7 separate regions of the Homo sapiens genome follow, and all the other regions are linked to region 2. Evidence: fine-mapped expression QTL. A gene starts in region 2. Each other region holds a variant in brackets. All regions are shown on one strand. Distances are from middle to middle. Region 1 overlaps WRN (WRN RecQ like helicase). Region 2 holds the start of WRN (WRN RecQ like helicase). Region 3 overlaps WRN (WRN RecQ like helicase). Region 4 has its middle 53 kb from the start of PURG. Region 5 overlaps WRN (WRN RecQ like helicase). Region 6 overlaps WRN (WRN RecQ like helicase). Region 7 overlaps WRN (WRN RecQ like helicase).

What was found. PIP is the estimated chance that this variant, and not a neighbour inherited with it, causes the effect.
Region 1: its variant is the best candidate, but not a certain one, in a credible set for the expression of WRN in whole blood (INTERVAL, PIP 0.72).
Region 3: its variant is the best candidate, but not a certain one, in a credible set for the expression of WRN in fibroblasts (GTEx, PIP 0.52).
Region 4: its variant is the best candidate, but not a certain one, in a credible set for the expression of WRN in caudate (GTEx, PIP 0.81).
Region 5: its variant is the best candidate, but not a certain one, in a credible set for the expression of WRN in memory regulatory T cells (Schmiedel 2018, PIP 0.86).
Region 6: its variant is the best candidate, but not a certain one, in a credible set for the expression of WRN in whole blood (TOPMed, PIP 0.60).
Region 7: its variant is the best candidate, but not a certain one, in a credible set for the expression of WRN in esophagus muscle (GTEx, PIP 0.60).

Annotation. Positions count from the first base shown.
Region 1 is chr8:31,132,265-31,136,264 of GRCh38, forward strand. It overlaps WRN (WRN RecQ like helicase), which reads left to right. Exons shown (of 35, transcript NM_000553.6): 24 at 101-242. Among named protein-coding and RNA genes, the nearest start is that of WRN, 100 kb to the left of the region's middle. The variant A/G (reference allele first, on the strand shown) is at 2,088.
Region 2 is chr8:31,031,985-31,036,139 of GRCh38, forward strand. WRN (WRN RecQ like helicase) reads left to right here and starts at 1,826. Exons shown (of 35, transcript NM_000553.6): 1 at 1,826-1,989. PURG (purine rich element binding protein G) reads right to left here and starts at 1,372. Exons shown (of 2, transcript NM_001323311.2): 1 at 1,094-1,372; 2 at 1-804. The coding sequence starts at 798. RefSeq lists silencers at 1,354-1,403, 1,564-1,823, 2,794-2,863 and enhancers at 1,579-2,100, 2,934-2,983.
Region 3 is chr8:31,121,397-31,125,396 of GRCh38, forward strand. WRN (WRN RecQ like helicase) reads left to right here. Exons shown (of 35, transcript NM_000553.6): 22 at 3,126-3,227; 23 at 3,512-3,604. Among named protein-coding and RNA genes, the nearest start is that of WRN, 90 kb to the left of the region's middle. The variant T/C (reference allele first, on the strand shown) is at 1,927.
Region 4 is chr8:30,977,849-30,982,003 of GRCh38, forward strand. No RefSeq gene overlaps it. Among named protein-coding and RNA genes, the nearest start is that of PURG, 53 kb to the right of the region's middle. The variant T/C (reference allele first, on the strand shown) is at 2,489.
Region 5 is chr8:31,113,616-31,117,615 of GRCh38, forward strand. WRN (WRN RecQ like helicase) reads left to right here. Exons shown (of 35, transcript NM_000553.6): 20 at 2,739-2,913. Among named protein-coding and RNA genes, the nearest start is that of WRN, 82 kb to the left of the region's middle. The variant AT/A (reference allele first, on the strand shown) is at 2,260.
Region 6 is chr8:31,073,111-31,077,110 of GRCh38, forward strand. WRN (WRN RecQ like helicase) reads left to right here. Exons shown (of 35, transcript NM_000553.6): 8 at 3,063-3,177. Among named protein-coding and RNA genes, the nearest start is that of WRN, 41 kb to the left of the region's middle. The variant G/C (reference allele first, on the strand shown) is at 1,999.
Region 7 is chr8:31,170,280-31,174,416 of GRCh38, forward strand. It overlaps WRN (WRN RecQ like helicase), which reads left to right. Exons shown (of 35, transcript NM_000553.6): 35 at 2,716-4,137. The coding sequence ends at 2,823. Among named protein-coding and RNA genes, the nearest start is that of WRN, 140 kb to the left of the region's middle. RefSeq lists an enhancer at 1,770-2,969. The variant A/C (reference allele first, on the strand shown) is at 2,480.

The DNA of each region.
Region 1 (4,000 bases), 100 kb after region 2:
GAGATATTTTTTACTTGGCTAATTGTTATGCTAAATCTTTTGATTTCTAAAGATACATGCCTTTGCTAAGCTTTCTTCAAATGTTATTATTTTTATTTAGATTGGATCATTGCTATTCCATGGATGACTCAGAGGATACATCCTGGGACTTTGGTCCACAAGCATTTAAGCTTTTGTCTGCTGTGGACATCTTAGGCGAAAAATTTGGAATTGGGCTTCCAATTTTATTTCTCCGAGGATCTGTAAGTATATATCTGTGAATTCCCTTCATAGATCTTCTTTTACTTCTATTACACTTTTCTTCAGAGGTTTGCAGTATTATGATTGTAGCTTTGACTTCAGATGGGTGACTAGGAACTCATAGAGTCTTACTAAGTTCCAGTTAAACACTACATTCATTACTTTGGATAAAACCCGTGTGTATGGCATCTTCTGCTGTTTTCATGTTCAAGCCGATGTTCAGCTCTGCAGCTCAGTCTGGAAGCATTGTGTTAATTTATCACATTGCATTTGGGTGAATCCCTAGACTAGTCTTGCTTAGGATAATTAGGAAAAGTTAACTTTCATTGTATCAAGGGACAGGTAGAACAAAATTGTCCTTTTGTCCAGGAAACCATTAAATTCTTCAAGGAAAACTTTAGTTATAGGGATTATTTTTTAAATGTCTAATTTCAGTAACAATATTTGGGACATATTTATTTTTCCTTCTGTTTCCTATCAGAAGTATTTAAAGTTATAAGAAAATTGTGGTTTTTGCCTTTACTAATGAATAAATAATCAATTAAATTCAGTTACTTTTTTTTGGAGTGATTGATGTTCCAGTATTCTTCTAAACAACCACGGGTACAAATGTGAATAAGATAGGACCGTTGCAGTCCAAGAGCTTGTTCTGTAGTCCTTTCCTTTATATGATTTTTTCCCCTGATTTAGAAGTCTATAAAGCAAAGCTAAGTATTACACACTGATAATGGCTGAATAAATCAAGAGCAAGAGATAGGATACTTTGCAAATATGCATATTTATTAAAAATGTACTTTAAAATAGAGATTAAAATTCTCGTATTGAATGTAGAATAGGTAAGCATTTATTTGTGAAATACTCGAATGCTTCATGTAAATACTTTCTGAGTTTGTATTTTTAGAAAGGAACATTTTGGAGGCTGAGGCAGGAGAATGGCGTGAACGTGGGAGGCGGAGCTTGCAGTGAGCTGAGATTGTGCCACTGCACTCCAGCCTGCGCGACAGAGCAAGATTCTGTCTCAATAAAAAAAAAAAAAGAAACATATTTATTAAATTAGTTGTGAAATATTTTTAATGAAATATATTGAAAACTTCTGTTGATTTTTCATGTACTGATGTTTTTAGATTCTAAATGGAGTTTAAAATTTTGTTTGTAAATCACAAGTTGGATTAGAAATTTAATAGTAGAAGTGTTGCCTAAGGACTATTTTAGGTGCTGTGAGTGAAACTGTATTTTTTATAACAAGAATTTTAGTTGTAAGGGACAGCTTAAATATAATTGAGATCTGTGAAAATGTATTCTGTCTCTATCACCTTCAGAACCTGTGTATCTCAGTTGAATGTATAATTTATAAAAATTATTCTTGTTTTAATTTGGTGTAATCCAGCCATATCCAGTATCAACAAATAAGTCTAAGTAGGCTCCTTGACAAACTTGAACTGGCCACAAGAGAGATCAGATTTCACCTATTAAAAAACCAAATCAGACCACTTACACTGACAGTCTCTTCTGGGAGTCCTCAAATTAAGAAGTCTATCCTTTGTGAAATATTACACTACCCTTGCTAGATAAAACTTTTCTAAAAGTACCACTTAATGAAAATCTGTAGACACTAAATGCAATGAAAATAAGGCATTGTTTTTTTTTCTCCCCATTTCAGTGATCTTGGTATCCTGGGATATTGTTTTTAAAATTATCGTTATAATTCCTTTGAGAATTTAGTGAAATGTTCCCTTTAACCAACTTAGGAAAAATTAATATCTTTGTACATGATTTTGAGCTGTAAAATAAACATTTTAAACTGGGAATAATTGGAGTTTAGTTAAAGAGATAATGTATATAAATAT[A/G]TAACATAGTAGCAGCATATAATTCTGTCTTACACAAGATTTTTCTGAATAGTATAAACAGTTATGTAGCCTATCTAGGAGTTTGTGAATAGAGTTTAAAATTTTGTTTTGAAGCTGCAAATTTGATTAGAAATTAAACAGTGAAGTTATTACTTAAGGAACTTCGTTTTAGCTGTCTGAACAACTTACTGTATAAAAATCTTTAAACATTCTGTATAAATATGTGATAAGATATGCAATGACCTTAATTTTATAGATTAGAAAATAAAAACACACTCATTAATTTACATAACTGACAGATTAAGTGAAACTTCTCTTCTGATCACGTTAGCAGAATGCCAAATCTTGTCGTGGCACTAGAATTAGACGGTAGTTTTGATAATACATGATTTGACTATAGACATTTGTTGAAACTATTGGTAGTTTTAATCACTCTTGTAATTTTCAAACTATCTAACGGGAGAGGATTATCCATCCTGTTTTCTAGACAAACTGTTTCATCTGAATGAAATATATTCCTAGAGATAATTATCACTACTTCATCTTTTGGTTTTATTTTGCACATAGAATTATAGTTCACAATGACTTTCTGAAGCTCTAAAGTTGCAGCTGTGAGCTTCTTTGGCCTGTAGGGACTGGGAAAAAGCACCCCCGTCCTCCCCCAAGCCCCCCCACCAAAAAAAGTTAAAGTGTTTTTAACAATAGCTGTGGGCTTTTTGTAGTTTCAGAACTTAGGAGTTGCCCAGGCTGGAATGCAGTGGTGTGATCATAGCTTGATGCAGCCTTGAACTCCTGGGTTCAAGCAATCCTCCCACCTCAGCCTCCAGAGTAGCTGGGACCACAGGTGCCACCCCACCCAGCTATTTTTTTTATTTTTTAATTTTTTTGTAGGTATGGGGTCTCCCCATGTTGCCCTGCCTGTCTCAAACTCCAGGGCTCTCAGGTGATACCCACCACCCTTGGCCTCCCAAAGCACCGAGAGTCACTGTGCCAGGCTGAGTTTAAAATTTCTTGAGTTGGAGTTTATGGCTATTTTTTCCACTAGTTATTAAACATGTATTTTTGTATAAGGCACTGTATTACATTTTGTGGGGGGATTCAAAGCTAAATTAGATGAGACGCATCATCTATTATGGAAGATGTTACTTAAGAAGAAATGAGTGTAATGTAGCAGAGAATTAGATAAGGGACGTATGAATACATATAAATGCTGTTGAAGTTCTGAAGAGAGAGAGTGTTTAGAGAAATTAGAGGAGTCTTTGTGAAGGTATCACTAGAACTTCCTATTTTTGTGGAATATATAGTAGATTTTGGTGTGATACTGTGGATTTGGACATTCACTCAGAGAAGGAATGAGGGAAGAATGGTGGAGAAGAATGGCATTCACAGTACAAAAAGCAACTGTGACTTTTAAAGAAGTTAATATGGAGAAGTGGCAAGTCTTTTCTTCTCTCTTCTCTTCTCTTCTCTCTTCTTTTTCTTTTTTCTTTTTTTCTCTGTCAGATACCGTTGTAAAGACTTTGCTTTTACCGGAAACTGATACGTTGGGTCATGTACCCTGGCCAGTCAGTTCTCTTTATTCTAACACTTAGCCGATCAGTTAGATTTCCACATTCCATGATATGTCAGTTTTGGTGACCCTTATTTTTCCACCTGGTTTATAAAGGGAAAGAATGTGATATGTCACCCAGGCTCTGGAGTACAGTGGCATGATCATAGGTCACAGCAGCCTCAAAGTTTCCAGTTCAAGCGATCCTACTTCCTTGGCTTCCTGAGTATGTGGCACTACAGGTGCATGCCACCATGCCCAGCTAACTTTTTTGTAGAGACAGGGTCTCCCTATGTTTCCCAGGCTGGTCTTGAACCCCTGACCTCAAGTGATCCGCCCACCTTGGCTTCCCAAGATATTGGCA
Region 2 (4,155 bases):
AGAAGTCCCCTCTGGGAGTTCAAGCGGGTCATCGTCTCCACCTCTTCGTTCTTCTATGTCTCCTTCGCCATAGTCTTCAATCAGCTGAACCAAGGCATCACGAAACTCAATCATTCCTTGTGCTGGGAGGACAATAGTCTGTTCTTGGCCCAAACTGTGGCCAAAATAACCTATCATGCCAGTCCCCCGCATCATGGTTTGTCTAATCCGTAGGAAGCGACCCCGCTGATTTTCCTTTAGGTCTAGGTAATATTTCCTATTGTCCCTCTCGATATAGTCTGTTTTCAGGACACTGTGAGGATGCTCTTCGGACCCCACCGAGACTGGTGGGGAGGGTGCCGAGTGCTTCTGCCTCCTTCTGGAGCCTTGCTCTTTGCTGTGGCCATGCTCTTGCCGGTGGCCTTTCAGGCCCAGGTGGGCATAGTGCTCGATGAAGTCCCCTAGACAGTCCTTCAGCTCCGCTGCCACAGACAGGGAGAGGGTCAGTTTACTCTTTCTGATGTTGTCCTGCCGGCCTCTCCCTATCCAGACTTCGGCTATCTTTAGGAAGCGGCCCCGGGAGCTTTGCTTCACGTCTAGGTAAAACCTCTTTTTCTGGATGTCCACTCGTTTGGAGGCCAGCTCCTGGATTTCGGCTGCGCCCCCGGCCTGATTAGGGGTGGCTGAGGCCGCGTAGTGGGGGTAGTGGGAGTGCTGGGCCTGGGGATAGAGTCTACTCTTGCTTAGGCCAGAGCCCCCTACATTCTTGCCTCCGCGGCCGCGGCCGCCGCCGCCTCCCCTTCGCCTGGCTCTTTCCATCTTCAGCTGCAAGTAACAAACAGACACACGGGATGGGGTGGGGGAGGGGTGTTGAGAACAATCGCAGACGCCCCTCGGCCTGACCGCCCCGCCGCCGCCCGCGACCCCCACGCCGGGCCCGGCTCCCCCGGCGCCGCAGCGCGGGGCTCCAGCCACTGCCGGCCGGTTGGCGGCCGCCGCTCCGGCTCTGCCCGCGCTCCCCGCATCCCTCCGCCGCCCCCGGGGCCGCTCCCGCACGCCGCCGCCGCCCGTCCCGCGCTCCGCGGCCCCAGGTCTCCAGCCGGCGGGCACTCACATCATCTCTGCCATCACCGCCGCCGCCGATGCCCTTCACGACCACCGCCGCCGCCACCGCCAGCTCTCGGCCCCTCTGCTGCAGCCGCCGCAGCCGCCGCCCCCCGCCTCCTCCCCCGCCGCCGCCGCTCGCACTGCCCCCCGCCGGAGCAGCCGGGCAGGGGCATCGCCCGCGGCGCCCACCGCAGCCGCCCCTCCTGCGGCCGCTGCGGGGGCCGCCGCCTGACTTCGGACACCGGCCCCGCACCCGCCAGGAGGGGAGGGAAGGGGAGGCGGGGAGAGCGACGGCGGGGGGCGGGCGGTGGACCCCGCCTCCCCCGGCACAGCCTGCTGAGGGGAAGAGGGGGTCTCCGCTCTTCCTCAGTGCACTCTCTGACTGAAGCCCGGCGCGTGGGGTGCAGCGGGAGTGCGAGGGGACTGGACAGGTGGGAAGATGGGAATGAGGACCGGGCGGCGGGAATGTTCTCACTTCTCCGGATTCCACCGGGATGCAGGACTCTAGCTGCCCAGCCGCACCTGCGAAGAGACTACACTTCCCGAGGTGCTCAGCGGCAGCGAGGGCCTCCACGCATGCGCACCGCGGCGCGCTGGGCGGGGCTGGATGGGCTGTGGTGGGAGGGTTGCAGCGCCGCGAGAAAGGCGAGCCGGGCCGGGGGCGGGGAAAGGGGTGGGGCAGGAACGGGGGCGGGGACGGCGCTGGAGGGGCGGGTCGGGTAGGTCTCCCGGAGCTGATGTGTACTGTGTGCGCCGGGGAGGCGCCGGCTTGTACTCGGCAGCGCGGGAATAAAGTTTGCTGATTTGGTGTCTAGCCTGGATGCCTGGGTTGCAGGCCCTGCTTGTGGTGGCGCTCCACAGTCATCCGGCTGAAGAAGACCTGTTGGACTGGATCTTCTCGGGGTAAAGTGTCTTCCTATTCCCGTTTTCCCAGCTCCGTGCCCCGGGGTATCTATAGTGCTAGGCTTCTGAGACACGTGGAGGCGCTTAGGCCCGCGGAGCAGGCCCCTGGGCTGTGTTTGGGAGATTCTGGAAAAACAGACTTTCTCCCTTTTCCTTTCCCCTCTGGAGCAGCTGGGAAAGGCGTCTCTCGGAGCTTCCGCCATTCAGAAAGTGTTTCCCCGCCCCTGACGGCCCCAGCTTGATGTTTACCTTGCGCGCTTAGTTAGGATTGCTCTTTCTAGTACGGCCTTTATTATGGCAGAAATTGAGCCACTACAGGTCTGCACAGCAAAGTCGAGGGAAATAACCTGCTGTCTATGATTTAGCAAGTGATGATGGATATTTTTGAGTTCAAATCACTCAGTCTTTAATGGATTTTCTTTTCTTTTTTTCCTAGTTGAATCTCAGTTGTTCTCAGGCTAGGTTTGATATGAAAAATACTACTCCCTATTGAAGAGGGTAATATAATTCTTAGGATGCTAATACAGGAGTCTGTAAGTCGGAGTACTTCAGGCTTTTTATGGTTCGGTACATTTCTTTTTAGGGGTGGGATATTGGGATAAGTAGGACAGTTCAGATCTTGATGTCATTGAATAGTGGTGTCTACCTAAAAGGAAGAGGCTGGGGCACAAAATTATAATTTAAAGTGTTTACTTCAGCCAAAATGAGGACAGCTGCCCAGGACTCATTTCCCAGTTGCCTTGGGGAGTGCTCCTTCAGCCTTGGTTACAAGCAGGTTTTTAAAGGCGAAGGGGAAGAGTGGGCTGAGACAAAGTTGGTCAGGAATTGTTATTGGTTTACAGAGATACCATTGCTTAGTGATTGGCTGTACACTGTAACTCATAGGGTATGAGTTATCGTGTCCAGCATATGGCATTTTATGGCTTCTTGGTTCCAGTCTAGAGCCCATATAGCAGGTGGGCTTTAAGAGATAATTATCCAGCTCAGACCGGGAGTGAGACGGGACTGTTTTTTCATTCTAATGCCTCTCTGGGCCTGATAATTTAAAGGGGCTTGCATTCTTCAGCTAAAATTTTATTTTCTTTTATTTTTTTTCCCCCACAGTGGTCTCCCTTTATTAATCCAACAAATGTTTATTAAGGACTGCTCTAGGCACTAGAGATACCAACAATGAACAAAACAGACAAACATCTCTCTCCTTTTGGAGCTTACATTTTAGTGGAAAGAGACAGGCAAAAAGTAAAATTATAGGATGACAGAAGGTGAAAATAGAGATTAAAAAGGAAAGGGGGATGAAGAGTGTGTGTGTGTGTTGTGGGTGGGGGGCTGTAGGGAGCTGCAGTTTTACAATAAGTGGTCAGGGACGTCCTCGCTGAGAAGGGAATTTTTGAGTCCAGAGCTCAAGGAAGTGAGAGAACTTACCTTGACGTTCTCTGGAGGAGAAGAAAGTACAAAGGCCCTGGGGGAACCTGCCTCTTTATGTTCAGAGAGCAACTTAAGAGGCCTAGTGAGCTGGAGCAGAGCGGAGAGGAGGTCAGAGGTCAGGCCAGAAAGGGAAAGGGGCCAGAATGTGTAGGACTTTATGGGCTATATTGAAAATTGGGGCTTTCATTCTGAGGGAGATGGGAAGCTGTTGGAGAGTTGTTAGGGAAACGTGATCTGAATTATGTTTCTAAAAAATTGGAGTAAGATATCATAAAATTTGCCATCTTAGTCTTTTTTGTATCTGGCCAATTCCACTCAGAATTCTTTTTTAAACAGCTTTATTGAGATATAATTAATATATCATATGATTCACTCATTTAAAGTGTGCAATACAATGGTTTTTAGTTTGTCTTCAGAGTTGTACAACCTTTATCACAATTACCTTTAGGACTTTTTCATTACCCAAAAGAGAATCTCCATAACCATTAGTACTCAATCCCACCCGCTTTCCTAGCAATCACTTACCTATTTTTTTGTCTCTATATAGCTCTCAAACCCTATGATATTCCTTCTATCTAACTGTATTTTTGTACTCATTAACAGCCTCTCTTCATTCCCACCACCCATCCATCCCAGCCTCTGGTAATCACCATTCTACTTACTACCTCAATGACATCAAATTTTTTAGCTCCCACATATAAGTGAGAACATGCGATATTTGTCTTTCCCTGCCTGGTTTAT
Region 3 (4,000 bases), 89 kb after region 2:
GTGGGAGATATAGTAGTAAAGAAAAGCAAAGTACCTGCTTCCATAGAATTCAGTATAATGGGAATGGTAATTCTTTAGAGAATCACATAACTATGGATACATAGGCTTCATTTTACTGTTCTCCTTTTGTGTTTGAAAATGTCAACAATCAAAATTTTGTAAAAAAGGAATCATGCAACATATTTAAAATTATAACTGTGTTAAGTGTAATGAAGGGAAATTGCACTGAGTAGTAAGAATATATAATGGTGTGTGGTATTTCCCAAGTTAAAAAGGTCAGATAAGGCTTCCTTGTGGAAGTGATAGTTCAAATCTGAAAGAAGAATAGGAATTAATTAGGTAAAAATGTTTGATGCAAATTTTAAGATTTTCCTTCTGAGTAGTCAGTAGCTTTTCCTTCTTAACATAGAAGATGACAAAACCATCCTTTTTTTGTACATAACAATTCTTGTTTTCCTTTAGACAGTTGTATCTGTCAAGCTTCTTATGATCTAATTTAAATAATTGGGATAGAACACAGCTGTACATGTTACTATTAAATATGGAATATATCAAACATAAGTTGATTCCTACCAGTTCTGATTTTATTTGTGTATTTTGTTAAAGGTACTGAGGACATTAATATCCAGTTTTATATTGTGCATTTGAAGGTTCATCAATAAATACAATTCTTGTTTCTCTGGGTCTTAAAAGATATTTTAAATGGTTATCTCATTAAGATTTAACAGGAAATAACAGTGATTCAAATCAAATAGTGGTGCCAGAAACCCATACTTGAATTTTGGGTATAGACAGGTTACCCTTTGCATCAATCCTGAGGAAACTAAAACTATAGGATTAATCAGGATAAAAAAGAATTGAGCAAGGATTCAGGAGGGATCTGTATCATCCTGGTGACAACCCTCTTCTAGAAAAAACTAGAAAGTCTAAGAATAAATGAAGTTGCTGGTTCTCACCTGGAAAGGTCAGTTACTCACAAAATTTTTAGAGTCTATCTTATGCCATAATTCTATCACTGAGAGAAGAAACTTGTCCAGTCATCATGTAATCTTCATGTAAATTTATGTTTTTAATTGCAGAATTCATACCACAGGCAAAGTCCCAATGTCTGCATTTGCTGTTACCTTAAATAGTCAAACCCCAAAGTTATTGTAATCTTTTTTTAACAGAGAATAATTTGCAGAGTAATCTCGGTCCGGTAGATCTTTCAGTGGATCCAAATGATTGCCATGAATGGTTTAGAATTTTTTTAATTTTCAAGTTGTTTTTATTCTGTGGAATACTGGACTTATTTTTGTAGTCCCAAAAGAAAAATAAATATTTATTTATTTGCCGTTAAGAGTTGTAGTTTTGTTTTCTCAAATTTGTCCTGACACTGACGAGATTAGTTAAATGTAGGTCATCTGAACCAAATACAAGGAAGGAAGGACCCAGTTCTGAAGAGTGTGGGCATTTCTTTTCTTGTTTTTTTTTTTTTTTTTTTTTTTTTCTATAGGAGGGGAACGAGGTGAACTAAACAAACAAAATAAAGCAAAAAAGAACTGATTTTTATCCCTTGAGGTAGAAAGAATGAGATTACAGTGGACCCCCTTGTCTGCATTTTCACTTTCTATGTTTTAGTTACTCACAACCACGTCCAAAATGTTAAATAGAAAATTCCAGAAATAAACAATTTATAAATTTTAAATCAGTGGTGGCTTTGAGTACTGTAATGAAATTTTGTGCCATCCCACTCAGTCTGCCTCGACTTCCCTTAGAATCATCCCTTTGTCCGGTGCATTCACGTTGTATTTACTCCCTGTCTGTTAGTCACTTGTTGCAGTATCACAGTGCTTGTGTTCAAGTAACGCTTATTTTACTTAAGAATGACCCCAAAGCACAAGAGTACTGTGCCTAATTTATAAATTAAACTTTTTCATAGGTATA[T/C]ACATATAGGAAAAAACATAATACATACAGGATTTGGTTGGTACTATTCTGCGGCTTCAGGCATCCACTGGACGTCTTGGAATGTATCCCTTGTGGATAAGGAGGAACTGTATATGGTTAACCTAGGAGCTAGAGTCAACAGTTGGAAGAGACTTTGGGGATAATTACATGGAAGGGCATGGTGGGTGGTCGTTTCAGATGACAAGAATGTTTTTGAATAACGGATCATTTGTGTCTTCAGACTTTCCAGAACTCCTTGAGAATTATGCAGAGGTATTTAATCAGTCAGAAGGTTGAATAGTCAAATTATTAGTGAGTGAAGTCTATTTTGATGAGGATTTTACTAATGCTGTCCCTTAGATATTATAAGTAAATCGTTGTTTTCTTTTGAAATATCTGAAACCTAGTTAACATGGACTTTCATTTGTTCTTGTAAAGATATGCAAAGCTATTTGGGAGATTGTCATCATCTGATATTTGATATTCATGGGCTTTCTTCACAGAAGACTAGAAATTAACAGAGTCATGATGAATTATGGCTGCATTGACTTTAAAAAACAAACACCTCCTTAATGTTATTTAACAATTTTGAATAAATTTGATATGGCAAACAAATCAGTTATAATCGATTGAGAAAGGAACTTAATTCTAATACTTGACTGGTGTCCCATAATAACCCATAATACTAAGAGACAGTTTTGGAGGGCGAGAAGTCCTGAAGAGCTGATAGAGATAAAGGTTCAAATTTGAGCTTCTTTCAGTGTTCCTTACGTCAATGCTTTTAGTTTCTCATACAAAATAAAATAAAGAATAACCTTTTTACTGGGAAAAGGTAAAAATTAATAAATTGTAGAAGCATTGTTTGAAGCCAAAAAGTGTGTGACATGTAAATTGAAATGAAAAACCTTAGAGTTTTTGATACTTTTTCAAAGCAGCTAAAGAATTGATACTTGGACACAGGAAGAATTTTTTTTCAAAAGCAATTTTTATAAAATCAGAAAAATGTTTACCTCTTGTTGGGGGCATTGACTGGAAAGGAATACAACAGAACTTTCTGAGATGCTAGAAATGTTTTTTTATCTTGATGGGGTGTGGGTTTTGTAGATAATGAAAAATAAACAGTAAAAAATAAGTAAAAAAAAAAGTAAGAAAGTTGCCAATACAGTTTTACATATTCCTGTGATGTTTTTAATCGACAGGCACCTTCTTACTGAGATACGTAATGAGAAGTTTCGATTATACAAATTAAAGATGATGGCAAAGATGGAAAAATATCTTCATTCTAGCAGATGTAGGAGACAGTATGTATTATTTATTTTATGCCAATAGTATGGATTTATGGATGATGCTCTTTTAAGACAACAATTTGGCTAAATAATTATCAGTATTTTGAAAAAATATTTTGTTGCTGTTACATGTGTGCTGAATTTTTAAGGCTAACTTCTTTGTGTCTGAGTAAACTGAAGTCAAATAATGAAGTCCCAAGTGAATCAATTAATGGTGATTTTACCTCATTATTTTCAGGAATGAACTTAACATATACGTTTCTGTTCTTTTATTTAATTTAAAATTTTGTCTTGGGTAGAATCATCTTGTCTCATTTTGAGGACAAACAAGTACAAAAAGCCTCCTTGGGAATTATGGGAACTGAAAAATGCTGTGATAATTGCAGGTCCAGGTAAAGATTTCTTATTATAGATGGACATTCTAAAAGTCTTTCTTTCTCTTCCTTTTCATGTTTAACTGAATTTTTGTTGAATGATAAGTATTTCAGTTTTTTAAACAAAACAATGAATGTGTTTAGATATGAGAAAGCAAACAATATTAAAGTATTTTGCTTAAAAAATAGATAAAGCAATAAAATGGTAGCCCTAAATCTAAACATATCAATAGTTATGTTAAATGTAAATGATCTAAAATATTATTTAAAGGCGTAAATTGTAAGAATTGGTTTAAAAACATGACCCTGTTCTGTACGTTGTCCACAAGAAATCCACTGTAATTATATAGATAGGTTTAAAAAAGAATGAAACATTACATTCCATGAAAACATTAATCAAAAGGAAGTTGGAGT
Region 4 (4,155 bases), 54 kb before region 2:
TCAGATATTATGCAAATACAAGTACATGCAGTAATATTTTTTAAAATGCAAGTTCTAAAGCAAATACAAGTACAGGCAGTAATATTTTTTCTCTTTTTATGTAAATGGTACCATACTAAATATGGAGGGGAAAGTATTGAAGTTCTTCTGTGATCAGAATTGCAATTTGGAAGAAAATGCACTGTTTGGTACTAAATATAATCAGATAAAGGACTAAAGTGTGTGTATTTGTCATAGATAAGCTCCTTGAGGAAAAGGTTCTGGGTCTCTGAGGCATGTGTGTGAATTGTTCTAGCCACTTGGTCTTGTAGTGCCTCTTCCTTGGTTGATGTTCTCTGGTGGATAACATGTCTTGACTACTCCAGTCTTTCTGTCTACAAACCTCTTCCTCAGATTTTCTTTTTCCCAGTGTTCCAGTCCTTCTCCTTTCAAGGTCTTGACCAAACAACCAAACCATTAGCCACTGTCCATGAGTCTGCATAGTCTTAGCTTGGGCCATTTTTCTTTTGCACAAAGTGGATGACCCCAGGTTCACCAACAGAAGCTGTCTCCATTGGGAGGATCTCCCTTCTCTATTTTTCACTTGTACCCATATATTGAGCCGAATCATCCATGAACCAAGCCCTGTCTTTTTCCTTCTCTATGAACTGTGCACAAGGGCCCTGTTATGTAGTCACAGGTGTGAGCTGAGGGAAAGGTGCTGGTGCAATAGTGGTGAATGACATGGGGGCTGGGGCACCTGCTCGTATAGCTTATTTTTTCTTTTTGCCCTTTGCATGTGCTCCATCCTGAATGTGTAACTTCCATCTTAGAATGGAATGCTGCTGAATGCACCTGACCTTATAACTTTGTGGGTGTGACAGATCCAGTTTGTGATGGGTAGTTCTGGACACATGGTCAATTCCTGTCCCACAGCCAAGCATTTCCTCTCTACCAGAACCTAATAGCATACCAGCAGCTGCTTTTCAGATGGTTTATAATTACCTGCTACAAACGGCATGATTTGGCCCAGAACCCTAGGGATCTGCATTGTGATTCTTATGTTGGAATAAAATCCATATGGCATCTGCCTATAGCAGATTTCTCTAACAGCATGGGATTAGCTGGGTCAAATGGCAAAGTGATAGATCTGTACTGCAGGCTGGATCTGCTGCAGAACCCTTTACTACTCTGGGCCTTACTCAAAGCAGGAAGCTTCCTTGTTATTTGGTAAAAAATAGGCCAGAGCTGTATTTCTGAGTGTAGAATATGATACCTCCAGAATTTGAAGATCCCTTCTAGGTGTTTTGGTTCCCTGCTACTGGTGGAAAGTGTGACATACATTAATGTGTCCTTCAATTTTGTGGGGATATCCCATCATGCCTTAGACCATTGACCCTGAATAGCTTTGCTGATGTAGTAGGCCCTTGAAACTTTGCTGCGTTTTTTTTCTCTATTGTCTGGAATGTGTGTCTTACTGAAGCTTCCAACACACTTGCCACTTTTTGTTTATCTGGACCAACCAACATAGTGTCATCAATCCAATGGGCCAAGGTGATATTCTGCAGAATGGCCAGAGAATTCAGTTCCCTTTGGGCCATATTTTGACATAGCCCTGTGCCAAGACAGTAAACATATAGTCAGTCCCAAGTGAATATAAATTTTCGAATCTGTCTTTCTGAGACAGAAAAGAAGGTATTTGATAGTTCAGTGGCCACATACCATGTACCAGAAGCAGTGTTAATCTGCTCCAACAAAGATACCACATCTGACATAGCAGGTACAATTTGGGCCACTATACTAGAGTTTGAGGCAGTCCACTGTCATGTTCCAAGATCCAATTTTTTTGTAGGAGCTAGATTGAAGAAGTAAGTGGATGTTTGATGTGAACCACTAATCCCTGCATCCTTTAGGTCTCTAAGAATAGAATTAATCTCTGACATTCCTCCCTGGATATGATACTGTTTTTTAACTTACTATCATTCCAAGGTGGTAGGGGGACACTTCTAGTTCCCATTTTGTTAAATTTTACCCCAAACCAAGTAACAAATGTAGAGTATTCTGCCAACTATTAAGTATGTCTAGTCCAATAATTCATGCATACATACACACATATGTGTTTGCAAGACACAAAAATAAATCAATTGTATACAAAATGTACAAATATCAATTATATTTTATAGGATAGAAATGAACAATAAGAAAAATTATAAAAACAACACGAATGAGAGTAAAATAAAAATTGTGAATTTTAGGAACATACCTGGAAAAAGATGTGCAAGATGTATACATTTAAAACTACAGCTCATGAGATAAAAAGAAGAGCTAAATAAATGGAGAGGTATATAACACTCACGACTCAATATTGTTAAAATCTCAATTCTCCCCAAATTGATATATAGATTGAATGCAATCCCTTCAAAAATTCCATCAGGCTTTATTTTAGACACTGGGAAACTGACTCTCAAATTCATTTGGAAATGCAAAAGACCTAGAATAGCCAAAATGA[T/C]GTTATAAAGAATAAGAAAGTTGAGAGACTAATGCTTCCGATTTCAAGACATATTTATCAGGACAATGGAGTGTTGGCACCTAGATATATAAATATATCAATGGAATAGAATAGAAAGTCCAGAAATAGAGCCATGCATATATGGACAACAGATTTTCAACAAAGATGCAAGGGTAAATCAATGGAAATGAGCATTCTTTGCAACAAATTGTGTTAGAATTACTTGATATTCTTTTGCAACAAAATGAACTTTGACCTATATCCTAAACTATGTGCTAAAACTGTGTACACAATGTGTCATAGACCTAAACATGATATATACAATTATAAAATTTATGGAAGGAAACATTGGAGAAAATCTTTGTGACCTTGGGTTAGGCATAGAGATTTTAGCTATGGAATCAAAAGCACAGTTCACAAAAGAAACAATTGATAAGGTGAGCTTTGTCAAAATGAAATCAAATTCAAATGTTCTTTGAAAGCCATTGCTAAAAAAAAATGAAAAGGCAAGCCATAGAGTGGGAGAAAATGTTTGCAAATCCTATATAAGAACTTGTTTAAAGAACTCTTAAAATGCAAACAAGGCGATCAAAAAATGGGCAAACCAAAAATGGACAAAGATTTGACACTCGGCCAAAGAAGATATACGGATAGTAAATAAGCATATGAAAAGATTCACAACATCCCTAGTCATTAGGGAAACGTCAGTTAAAACCACAAGAGATGCCTCAACATCTTATCTGAATGGTGAAAATTTAAAAAGCCGACCATACCAAGTATTGGTGGGGATGTTGAAGGATTGCTGGTGGGAATGTAAAGTGGAACAAGCACTTTGGAAAATAGTTTGAGAGTTTCTTAAAAAGTTAAACATATACTTACCATGTGATCCAGTCATTCTATTCCTAGGTGTTTACCAAAGAGAAGTGAAAGCAAATGTACATAACAGTACTTGAATACAACTTTTTATAGGAGCTTTATTTTTAATAGCCAGAGACTGAATTAAGCCAAATGTTCATCAATAAATGAATAAATGAACACATTCAGCATCCATATAAATTCAGCATATCCATATCCATGGGATAATATAAATAAATGAACTATTGATACATACAACAATATGGCTGAATCTCAAAATAAATATGCTGAGTAAAAGAAACCAGATTAAAAAATAGTACATATTATATGAGTCAATTTAAAACTCTAGAAAATGCAAAGTTACCTATGTTGATATAAAGTAGGTCAGTGGTTGCCTGGTGATAGGCTCAGAATGGGTGTCAGAGAGGGAAGGAAAGTTTTTTTTTTTTTTTTTTTGAGACGGAGTCTCGCTCTTTTGCTGGGGTTGGAGTGCAGTGGCGTGATCTCGGCTTACTGCAACTTCCGCCTCCCAGGTTCAAGCGATTCTCCTGCCTCAGCCTCCCCAGTAGCTGGGATGGGGCTTCACCATGTTGGTTGGCCAGGATGGTCTCGATCTCTTGACCTCATGACCTGCCCGCCTCGGCCTCCCAAAGTGCTGGGATTACAGGCTTGAGCCACTGCGCCTGGCCAGGGAAGGAAACTTTTTTGGGTCATCAATATATTTTTTATTATTATTATTTTTCAAATTCTCCTAGATCCTGAGGATGTGCTTATTCTTTTGATTGTGGTGAGGGTTTCATGGTTGTATACAT
Region 5 (4,000 bases), 82 kb after region 2:
ATAACACTCTCTATGGCACTTTCCCTTATAATAACACTCTCCTTTTTAAAGCAGTTTGCCTTTTTTGTGTGTAATATTGTTCTCCTGGTTTTCTGACGTCCTGGTCCTCTTATAATCCTATGCAAATGTTTCTTTCTGTTTTTCATGTTGACTCTGCTAATTGAGGTCTTTGTTACTTTTTAGCCGAGACTATTATAATTTCCCCAACAGATACCCCTCTCCCCAGTGCCCCTTGTTGCTTTCTATGCAGTTTACAAATTATTGTCTGCAAACACATCCTTAAGTCTGGAATACCTTTCTGGAACTCCTTACTAGGAAATAAAGACCAGACTCAGTGTAACATTCAACAGTATTGAAGATCTAGGTATTTAATATGAATTTTTTTTTTTAAGGAGATCAAGAAAGATTTTTGTACCCATTTTTAATCCTCCAAGAAGACTTAGGATAGCAGGAAACCATTGAGAGTCAGAATGCTTTCTACAGATCTTAGGTGAACAGAAACTTTCCTCTTCATGAGCAGTGAGGTAGAGGGTAATTAAGGCTTCAGAGCATTGCCCGTTATTTCCATCTTCTTCCCTTCCTTTAATTCTGCTAAATTCCTTTAATTTGTTTATCAGTATTCAAGTATTTTTATCCATTGAGCTAAGGTGTTTCTTAAACTAACCCTATTTTGTTAAAGTCTTAATTATAATATATTCATAGTACATTTAAGTGAGATAGATGAGTCTCTCATATAATTTAGTGGTTAGATTAGATTAGAATTTTCTCCCCTCAGAAAATTAAGAGGAAATAAAAGTCTGTAGCAAATCACTTGGCAAAATAATGGCTCCTTTTGTAATAGGAATTTTTACTCTTTTGATTTATCTGTTACATAAGTTCAAATTTTTACATATTTTCCACCTTTTTTAAAAAAGAGTGATATGTAGTCAATATCAATTTGAGCAACACTGTTGCATATAAATTGAAAAGGACTCCAATTTTCTAATTCCGTACCTCAGTTGTGATCACTGTTGGTATTTTGGCATTTATGTAGACTTCCTTTCTCTGACCCTACTACTGTGCAGATATATAGTTGCAGTTTTTTGTTGTTGTTAAGTTGATACAGAAATAGTTGCATACTATATCCATTATTTATGCAAATTTTTTTTCATTTAAAGTATCTGCTATCTTTCCATATATTGCATTTTCTTAAATTAGAGCCTTAATATATAGGATATTACAATATCTAGGTTTTGTTGAGTAGTTTTTTCTTCTTTGAAAACATGTTTTTAAAATAAGGTTTTTTTTTTTTTTTTTTTGACATGGAGTCTTGCTCTGTCGCCCAGGCTGTAATGCAGTGGCGGGATCTTGGCTCGTTGCAGCCTCTGCCTCCTGGGTTCCAGCGATTCTCCTGCCTCAGCCTCCTGGGTAGCTGGGATTACAGGTGCATGCCACCATGCCCTGCTAATTTTTGTATTTTTAGTAGAGACGGGGTTTCACCTTGTTGGCCAGGCTGGTCTCGAACTTCTGAGCTCAGGTAATCCGCCCGCCTTGGCATCCCAAAGTGCTGGGATTACAGGCGTGAGCCACTGTGCTGGCCTTAAAATAAGATTTTTATACACTAAAAGAAAACTTACATTTTTCACTCCATTAAGTAGTTCACTGTGAATTTTTGATATTGAAGCCCATTTGGTTGCTGTCAAAAATAGATTTGAACAGATTATTCAGTATGACTCTTGTAGTGAAATTATTGCCTTGTTTCCTCTGCTTAAGTTTTCAGTGGCTTTTGCCACAGTCCTTAAAGGTTTTATAATTTTTTTAATGTTTAATTTTTAAATGTTTGCTTAATATTTCTTAGTATGAGTGTAGATAATGATGAACATTTAGATGACTTTTTACTATTATAATGTTGCAGTGAATATTTGTTTACATTTATCTTTTGGCCAATAAGCAAATATTTTTGTAAATTAGAATCCTAAAATTGAAATTGGATCAAAAGTTATATGCACTTGAAATTGATTAACTTTTCCTAAATCTAAAATAGTATAGTCTTTTTTATATTGTCAGCATAAATGAATGCACTTATGTAAATGAATATTTTTAGGCGTTAAGTAAAATATTCTGTGGAAATTGAACATTTAAGTTGTTTATACTTCTATGGAAATCGTTTACGCTTTTAATAAAGAAGCACAAGTTTCTACAAAATACATTCTAACAGATGTTTTCTATAACATTCAGTCTCAAGATTACTAGTAAATACTTCTTTGAACTGTAAAAGCA[AT/A]CTTTCAATATTATAAGAAAGCTCTTGCTTTAGTAAACATTTAGAAACTCAGCTTTATTATCATAAGCAAGAATAAGAACAGTGTAACAAGTTTTATGCACACTCCTTTGTAAACCCTCACCAGACTAATTGTTAATCTGGTGCCTTGCATTCCCCAAAGTATTTGTATCTGTCGTTTATAAGTTTTTATCAAGGTTTCAGCTAAAACAAATAAATTTGTTTCTGGTTTTAGCTTTAATTTGAACTGAAACAGTCAAAACTGAGTTTTGGGGACTTCACACAATTCATTTGGATATTTGATTCTCCATAATGTTTTAAATTTTCATGCACTTAAATATATCATTATTTTTGATAGGCTTTCTTCCTTTAGTCTTTTCTTTAGAAGGTAGAAAGGAAGAATTAAATAAGATAAAACCAAACGGGTCTGAAGCATGTATAAAGTATATATGTTTGCTCTTTTGTTCTTCTTTTTCTTTAGTTCCCACTGGGAATTTGAAGGTCCAACAATCATCTACTGTCCTTCTAGAAAAATGACACAACAAGTTACAGGTGAACTTAGGAAACTGAATCTATCCTGTGGAACATACCATGCGGGCATGAGTTTTAGCACAAGGAAAGACATTCATCATAGGTTTGTAAGAGATGAAATTCAGGTATGAGGATCAATCATCATTGCTCTCCGTTGCTCATAGTGGAAGTGGATATTTCTCAAATGTTTATTTACCAGATCTTTATTGAATACTTTCTTTGTGTTGAACATAAAGCAGTCCCTCTGATAAATGTGGGAGAACAAACTTGCAGATTAGTATAAATAGCAATCTGTACCTAGTGCTTAGGTGCACAGAGGAGGGAGGAATAGCTCTGTCAAGGTAGTTGTGTAATGGGGGTGGTCCATCCAGGAAAATTCAATTAGAGTCCAAACATGTAAGTAGAAGTTTTTCAAGTATGCCAGGCCAGTAGGTGATGAGGGGAAAGGAATTGGTTATAGAATTCCAGGAAGAAGGACTAGCAGGTGCAAAGACACTTTGATATGAGAACACATACTGGGTTCAGGAAATGTGACTGGTATGGAATGGTTGGAGGGAAAGACAATGTGGGGTAGGAATGGCACAAAGTATGGACAAAGAGGCAGGGTGGAACCGTTAGAGACTTGAGAGAACAGTTGAATGGGTCGGTTGGCCAGGTTATAGATGGCTTTAAAACTTGCAAAGAAGCAGTCTGGGCTTGGTATCATATACCTGTTAGTTTTCACTGACTACTTTAGCCTTAGAATTTTTAGTTTAGATACAATTTTCTGTAATAGGTAAAACGGATTAAAGTAGAATAACTCTGGCTGAAGTTAATGTGAGGGAAAAGGAGGTACAAGAGTCTCGTCTCTAGACCTTGAAGACACTCCCTGTTGGGGTCTTATAATCCTTGGAGTGCCGCAGAATCATTTGAAAACCATCTTGATGTACTACTCTGTGTTTTTAAATAAGATAATAGGATTATAGAAACATTAGACTGGCAGCAATAAGTTGGATTGATTTGAAGAAGAGAAACTGAAGAAGGGAAAGGGTATCGATGCAGCTATTGTGAAATTCTACAGTTGAGATTCCTGACCTGATTGGACTGGCTCAGTGGGTGTCATAGAGGATTTATTTGGGAGGATTTAAGTTCAAGGCACATGAGTAGGTTTAAGTCAACAACTTGACACTGTCAACATGAAATCCACACTGTAACTATAAGTCCGAGGAAGAG
Region 6 (4,000 bases), 41 kb after region 2:
GGAGCAGAAGAATGATATAATTAAAATTTTATTTTAGAAATATTTTTCTGGTTGTCGTAAGAGGAAAAATATTTAGCCCCAGGGCATTTTGGCAGAGAGTTAGGAGGCTATTGTAACAGCCCAAGCAATAGACAATAATTGTTTGGATTAGGCGGGTAGCAATAGAGGTGATGAGAAGTCGTAGCTTCTGTAGGTATTTGGAAGATATATATTGTGAAGGATTTGCTGATGAATTCCCTGTAAGGGGTGAGATGTAAAGATTCATAGAACATTAAGATATTTTGGTCAGATCATCTGATCAATGGAAAGGTCAGTTATAGTGGACAGATTATGAGAAGAACAGGTTTGGGTGAGAAAACTTTAGATTTCAGTGTTGGATATCCTAAGTTTTAGATGATTATTGATATCCAAGAGATATCAATATTTGGGATCAATTTGGGAAATATGATCCCAAAGTTCAAGGTTGAGGTTGGAGATGTAATTCAGATCCGATGGTAGTTAAAGCAGTGAGACTGAATGAGATAAAATAGGGAGTGAATGAAATAAAGAGTAGGTGTGATATTGACCTCAAGGGCACACCAGCATTTAGAGGTTGGGAAGATGAGGAGAGAGCAGCAAAGAGGACTGGGAGGGCCACTAATGAAGGAGGGAAGTACAGGAGGTGTTTAGTTCTGAAGCCACCTGAAGAAAATGTTTGGAATAGGAAGAAGTTGTCAGTTGCTTTAAATCATTCGGGGAGGTTGAGTGAGATGAGAGTCTAGAACTAACAGTTAGGTTTGATGGTGTGGAGGCCATCAGTAACCTTTTCTTTCTTTTTTTTTTTTGAGACAGAGTCTTGCTCAGTCACCCAGGCTGGAGTGCAGTGGCGCGATCTCTGCTCACTGCAAGCTCCGCCTCCCAGGTTCACACTATTCTCCTGCCTCAGCCTCCGGAGTAGCTGGGACTACGGGTGCCCGCCACCATGCCCGGCTAATTTTTTTTTTTTTTTGTATTTTTAGTAGAGACGGGGTTTCACCATGTTAGCCAGGTTGGTCTCGATCTCCTGACCTCGTGATCCACCCGCCTCGGCCTCCCAAAGTGCTGGGATTACAGGTGTGAGCCACCGCGCCCGGCCCAAGAGTAACCTTTTCAAAAGCAGCTTTGCTCTACTGATTTGGGTAAAAGCTTAGTTGCAGTTGGTTTGGGAGGAAATGGGAGCAGAAAATTTGAGAGAGTGAGTGTAGACAACTCTTTCAAGGAATTTCGCTATAAATGGGAGTAGAGATCTGAAGACTGAATAATTAGCAAACTGAAAAGTGGGAAGACGTAATTCTCTTATTATTTCATTTTTCTTAGTGAAATAAGAGGTGAAGTTCTCTGAGTAATAGGAGGGTCAAACAGGTGTTAGAAGTTCACAAAGAAAGGAAGAGGTTTGAAATAGTCATTTTGAGAGTGGGAAATGTAGAAGAATTAACAGTCATTGCTGAGGGTGCGTTTGAAATCTGTCATGAGTTTAAAATAACTTGTGTCATCATCGATGTGTTTATTTTCAACTATATTCAACTGCTTGGGTGTAGGCATCAGGTAGGTAAAAAAAGTGGGTTTTATTATGAGTAGAGGTTTTGCCACGTAATTACCATGGAGGGAGGGAAGAGCAAAGGAGTTGAGAGTATAGATACAAAGGAATGATTACTGTAATGTGGGTAAGAGAGGAATGGAAGGCTCAGTGGGCAGTGGGAGTAGGGATGTTGATAGGTAAGGAAAAGGTGATAGGATCAATGCATTTGGTTCTGCAAGTGTCAAAGTATTGTTGGGGAAAGCATGCTGGAAGGAAAGATAGGGATGCTGGTGTTCTCAGGGTGGAAGGCTTACAGTTGTAGTCTGGAAGTGGTGATTTTATTGGCAATTATAAGGTCAACGGTATGACTATGGAATTGAGTGGCTAAGGTCTGTTGAAGAAAAGATTGTCGGAAATGCAGGGGTCAAGGAACTGGCCTGTGGATGTTGAACTCACTGGCA[G/C]TGATCAAGGAATAGTAGTGGAGTGAAAGTAGTTAATGAATCAGGCACTAAGATCTCCAAGGGATGAAAGGATGCAGTTTGGAGATGACAAGATAACTGTAGTAATCAGGAATAGCAGGTTTTGTAGCTCTGTCTCATAGGCCTCAGAGGAGATGGGCTTTTGAAGGACAAGAGAAATGATGATGAATAAATTCTAAGCAGGGGAAGTGTTTGGGAAAGCAGGGCAGGCTTTGTGCTGTTGATGGCAAATGATGTACCAGACAGGATGAAGTTGAGAATTTGGAAGTTGATCACTGATTAGAAAGGCTTACATTTTATTTTGGCCGGGGGTGGCAGCTCATGCCTGTAATCCCAGCACTTTGGGAGGCCAAGGTGGGCGGATCCCTTAGGCCAGAAGTTGGAGACCAGCCTGGCCACCATTGCGAAACACTGTCTCTACTAGAAATACAAAAAAAAAAAAAATTAGCTGGTCGTGGTGGCACATGCCTGTAGTCCCAGCTACTCCGGGGGCTAGGGAATGAGAATAGCTTGAAGCCGGGAGGTGGAGGTTGCAGTGAGCCGAGATTGCGCCACTGCATTCCAGCCTGGGTGACAGAGTGAGACTCTGTCTCAAAAAAAAAAAAAAGGAAGGGCTTACATTTTATTTTGGTGCTGACTGGGAATGAAGGCAATGAGGGATGACTGTTGGAGAAGGCTGTGCTTACTAAACAGTATTATTAAGTAGCAGCATACATGGTGTTATACTGACTTCTGATTTTGCAATAGTACAGACAGGTTCAGATTCTCATTTCCACCTTCTCCTTCTGCCTAGGTGAATAACTGCTGGGTTATAGTACAGATGACTGCAGATCATTTGGAATTTACTTTAAATGTAAACAGTAAAAATTTGAAAGAGAGGGAAAGTGATTGAGGCAATTTGGGGATTGAATAAGAAGGTCTTTTTGTTGGAATTCATTTAAGGAAAGAAAATGAAAATTTGATCCCTAATATTATTTAATGAAGTGGCTAAATGAATATCTCTGCTTTGTGGTTTGAAAATTAATATTGATTTTTTTTCCCCCTAGAGGAAGAAATCCTACTTAGCGACATGAACAAACAGTTGACTTCAATCTCTGAGGAAGTGATGGATCTGGCTAAGCATCTTCCTCATGCTTTCAGTAAATTGGAAAACCCACGGAGGTTAAATATTACCTTTTTTTTTTTTAACTTAAATCAATTCTGTTTATTTTTTTATCACATTTTCCTATATGTGAAGAATACTATTCATTAAGGCTGACTCATAGAAATTTGCTTGAATACACACACACAGACTGATGCATAAATTTGAGAAATATCTTTCCAGTTGTTGAATAGTGAATCCAAAGGTTTAAGCCTTTTCTGTCTGCTTTGTAGGATGTTTTATGAAACAAAGGAATAGAAATTGTATTCATATTATACATTTTGAAATTATATCTATATTATATTTTTTGTCAAAGCAAAATAAATTATACATTAAGGAAAATATTTAAGATTCAAAGTTGTCATTTTCTTTCTGTTAATGAGTATCTTTGATTTAATAACATTTATAGTTTGGTCACTTGAAATCTATAGTGACCAAAAGCAATGTCATATTTAGTAGCCTCATTTCTGTTACTATCTGATTATTACTTAAGAATTCTACTTAATTAATAGATTATTAGAACAAAAGGCATTCCAATTTTAGAGATTCTTTTATGGTTAAAGCACTAGGTAACTTAAAAAATTTGGATCAAATGTTATACAGATTAATAGACCTTGGAATACAGGGGCTATGTCTTTTTGGAATCAGACCTTGTCCTGGCCTTAATTGCAGGATGACTTCCTTATTAAATCTCTAAAAGCAGGAATGCTCTGGAACAATGAACAATTAGAATGTGGTAATGTAATTTTGGGCCAAAAAATACTTTGTAGAAATGTGATTCTCTTACTTGGAATAGAAAGAATTCTGACTCGAAAAAGTGCAGTTAATGTATGCTTTTCTGGG
Region 7 (4,137 bases), 140 kb after region 2:
TCTTCCCAGTACCCTCTCCTCCTATGTCATTTTTTTCTTCTTATTTTTCTTGACTGTATAAGAGAGAATGTATGACATTTCCTGCTTGACCGCTGAGTTTGATTATAAATTAAAATACACAATATTTTATACAAATTGTTTTGTAGAAGATTTATTTACAGATGCTCATTCACAGGTAAAATTGACTTATGAAAATAGTTTTCATGACAAATGTATCAGGCTCGGTAACTAAATATATGGATTGATCTTGTTTATAAATGAAATTAAATGTGAATGTAACTTACATATTTCTGTATTTGCTTACATCCGTATGTACACATATAATCAGCAAATGAGTTGATGTTTCCTATTCGTAACTTAATGGTAATAGCTTGGTAACAGAGTTGGGAGTATTAAAAAGATGTAAAGAGCCCCTTAAAATTTTGTTGCTGGGAATTTTAGTGTTCTACTGATGAAGGAAATAGACACTGGAAGGCGTTGTTTCTATTAGGTAACTTAGATATCATACTGAAGACTTCAAATACTTATTGTTGACACTCAAAAGACACACTTAGTGTAAGTAAGCATTTCCCCGCTTTTCCCAATGAAATAAGATCATTATTATAATTCCATTATAAATGCTGATGATCATATTTATAGAAATATAGAAGATAAGACTTGAAATGATATTCGCTACCAATTAATGAGTTTGAAGAAGAAATCAGGATGTGTTTTGCTATTTTACATTTATTCTTATTTAACTCCAAAGAATTCAGTGATGTTATGTACTATTATTTCCATTTCTCTGTGAAGACGTTGAAGCTTAAGTAACACGCATAATAAGGTCATACATTTAGCAAGTGGCTCAATTAAAGTTCAAACCTGGTTCTGCCTGGTTTCAAAGTCTGTGCTACTCCATGGTATTAGGCTACAACATGACTTAGGGTTTCTTCCTCTGCTCTATTGCTGTTCAGATGTACTCCTCTTTTGGCAGAGTGGGAGAAAATTTTTGCAATCTATGCATCTGACAAAGGCCCAATATCCAGAATCTACAAGGAACCTAAACAAATTTACAAGAAAAAAAAAAAAACATTAAAAAGTGGGCAAAGGACTTGATCAGACACATCTCAAAAGAAGACATTTATGTAGCCAACAAACATATGAAGAAAAGCTCAACATCACTGATCATTAGAAAGATGCAAAATGCCTTTTCTGTATGCCACCTTATATCCCCAGTATTTATTATTTCTAAGTCATAGTATCTTACAGTGTATATAAGTCTCATCCGTTCTTTTGATTTTCTCTTCCCTGCTTGCAATTGGGTACCTAGGAACAAAGTTGCAATCTTAGCCAGTTTTTTCTTTAGCCTTTGCTGATGTGTGAAAAGCCCTTTTTTCTACCCTGGATTTCTGTACTTAAGCTGGAACAGCTAAGTTTTTACCTTTTTTAAATATAAAGTTTCAGAGTCTTCTGCCAAGGATCTTTTGCTGTTTTCCTACTGTTAAATATTTCAAAGCCTTTTTTAAACATAGGGAATATAATCAAACATAGCAAGCAGCTGATGAACAATATCTAGATAGTCTTCATTATTGAAATGGAATAAATGGTATTTTTGTATTTTAGGCTAACAGACACCTTGTACCTTAGATAAGGCCAACCTTCTCATAAAATCCCTCAGTTACTTTTATTAATAATAACCAAATTAACTCTGGATTCCAGGGTGTACTCATGATGGAATGATTTCTCTGTCATGTTATCCTGAGGATCTAGTACTCTGAGATAACATAAGTGTATGACACTTTAGGCTTATGAAACACTTAGCTACTTAAATTATTTAATTTTTTTTCATGTGCAGATGGTATTGTACCCAAACACTACCTTTGTGTGTGTGTGTGTGTGTGCCTGTGTGTGTGTTTTTGAGACAGGGTCTTACTCTGCTCAGGCTGGAGTGCAGTGGCGTGATTATAGCTCACTACAGCCTTGACCTCCTGGGCTCCAGTGATCCTGCCAAAGTGTTGGGATTGCAGGCGTGAGCCACCTCACCCAGCCTTAAATTATTTTTTTTTCAAGGATGTTTAACCTGAGGGTTAGAGGCTCTTTGGCACGTGAGCTGCTGAAATGTGTGTGAAAGTGTTGTGCACGTGTATGTTTCTCTTTTTTTCTGGGAAGTGGATCTGTAGTGATTCTTAGATGAGTCTATGAGACAAGAAACTTTTATTTTTTTCATTTATTTAGCGAATGTTTGTTAAGCGTACTATGCCTTGGCCACTCTACAGGGTGCTGATTGGACCAGTCTGTCTACCTACCGTTGTAGATGTTAGAAGCTATATTCTTTTCACATGCCTAATATAACTCTTTGTGTATGTATACATGCCCAGGCATGTTCCTTCCTCAGAACATTAAATTCACCATTTTGGTCAACTCAAAGCAAGTACACCATGGGACACAGATCTGAAATAATGTCCAGATTTTTACTTACTGAATGAGGTGTGTTGAGTGT[A/C]TAAGACTACATGATGAGATGGCAAGTAATTGCCTGAAGAAATGATGTAGTGATTTTGTGTGTCTTATATTTATTTACTTTTTGATCCAGAAATAAATTATATAGATACCACTATTTTGTTTGGATGGGGGAGAAAGGATGGGTGTGTATTCAGGAACTTATGTTACTTTTTTGCAACTAATACCCCTTCTCAGTAGTACAAAGATTTGATTTCTTTTTCTTTCTATTTCCTACAGACTTCATCTGCAGAGAGAAAGAGACGATTACCTGTGTGGTTTGCCAAAGGAAGTGATACCAGCAAGAAATTAATGGACAAAACGAAAAGGGGAGGTCTTTTTAGTTAAGCTGGCAATTACCAGAACAATTATGTTTCTTGCTGTATTATAAGAGGATAGCTATATTTTATTTCTGAAGAGTAAGGAGTAGTATTTTGGCTTAAAAATCATTCTAATTACAAAGTTCACTGTTTATTGAAGAACTGGCATCTTAAATCAGCCTTCCGCAATTCATGTAGTTTCTGGGTCTTCTGGGAGCCTACGTGAGTACATCACCTAACAGAATATTAAATTAGACTTCCTGTAAGATTGCTTTAAGAAACTGTTACTGTCCTGTTTTCTAATCTCTTTATTAAAACAGTGTATTTGGAAAATGTTATGTGCTCTGATTTGATATAGATAACAGATTAGTAGTTACATGGTAATTATGTGATATAAAATATTCATATATTATCAAAATTCTGTTTTGTAAATGTAAGAAAGCATAGTTATTTTACAAATTGTTTTTACTGTCTTTTGAAGAAGTTCTTAAATACGTTGTTAAATGGTATTAGTTGACCAGGGCAGTGAAAATGAAACCGCATTTTGGGTGCCATTAAATAGGGAAAAAACATGTAAAAAATGTAAAATGGAGACCAATTGCACTAGGCAAGTGTATATTTTGTATTTTATATACAATTTCTATTATTTTTCAAGTAATAAAACAATGTTTTTCATACTGAATATTATATATATATTTTTTAGCTTTCATTTACTTAATTATTTTAAGTACCTTTATTTTTCCAGGATGTCAGAATTTGATTCTAATCTCTCTTATGTAGCACATGTGACTTAATTTAAAACCTATACTGTGACACAGAGTTGGGTAAACGATGATTATTTAACTTTAAGCAGTTCACCATCCATTTCAAAGCCTTTGATTGGCTTTTTTGTAAATAAAAATAACTTGTTAAGAAACAAATATATCTGTCATAGAAGAACTAGAAAATCCAGGGAAGTGAGAAAAATGAAAATAAAAATCATTCATAGTTTTACTAGTAGCTAATCACAGTCAACCTCTTTTGTGTATCCCACCAGACTTTTTTATATTCATTTGTTTTTAGTTAAAATATAAAAGTCTCGTATATTCCCATTTTTCTGCATTGCATTACCAGAAGGTAGTGGCGCCTATTAAATATGTGATATGTTGTTGTCCAGCCATGGCTTCTGCATTTGCATGCTTTTGTGTGTGCATCTGCAATACCCTGTGAATATCCTGTGTGATGGAGTGGCAAGTACGCACAGACACGTCTGCTGCATGCCTAGGTACGAGGCTGTCTCCAGGAGAAGCACTTGTTTGATTATTTGAGTTGCCAATTGAATTTGCTGCTTTTTTTCATGGCT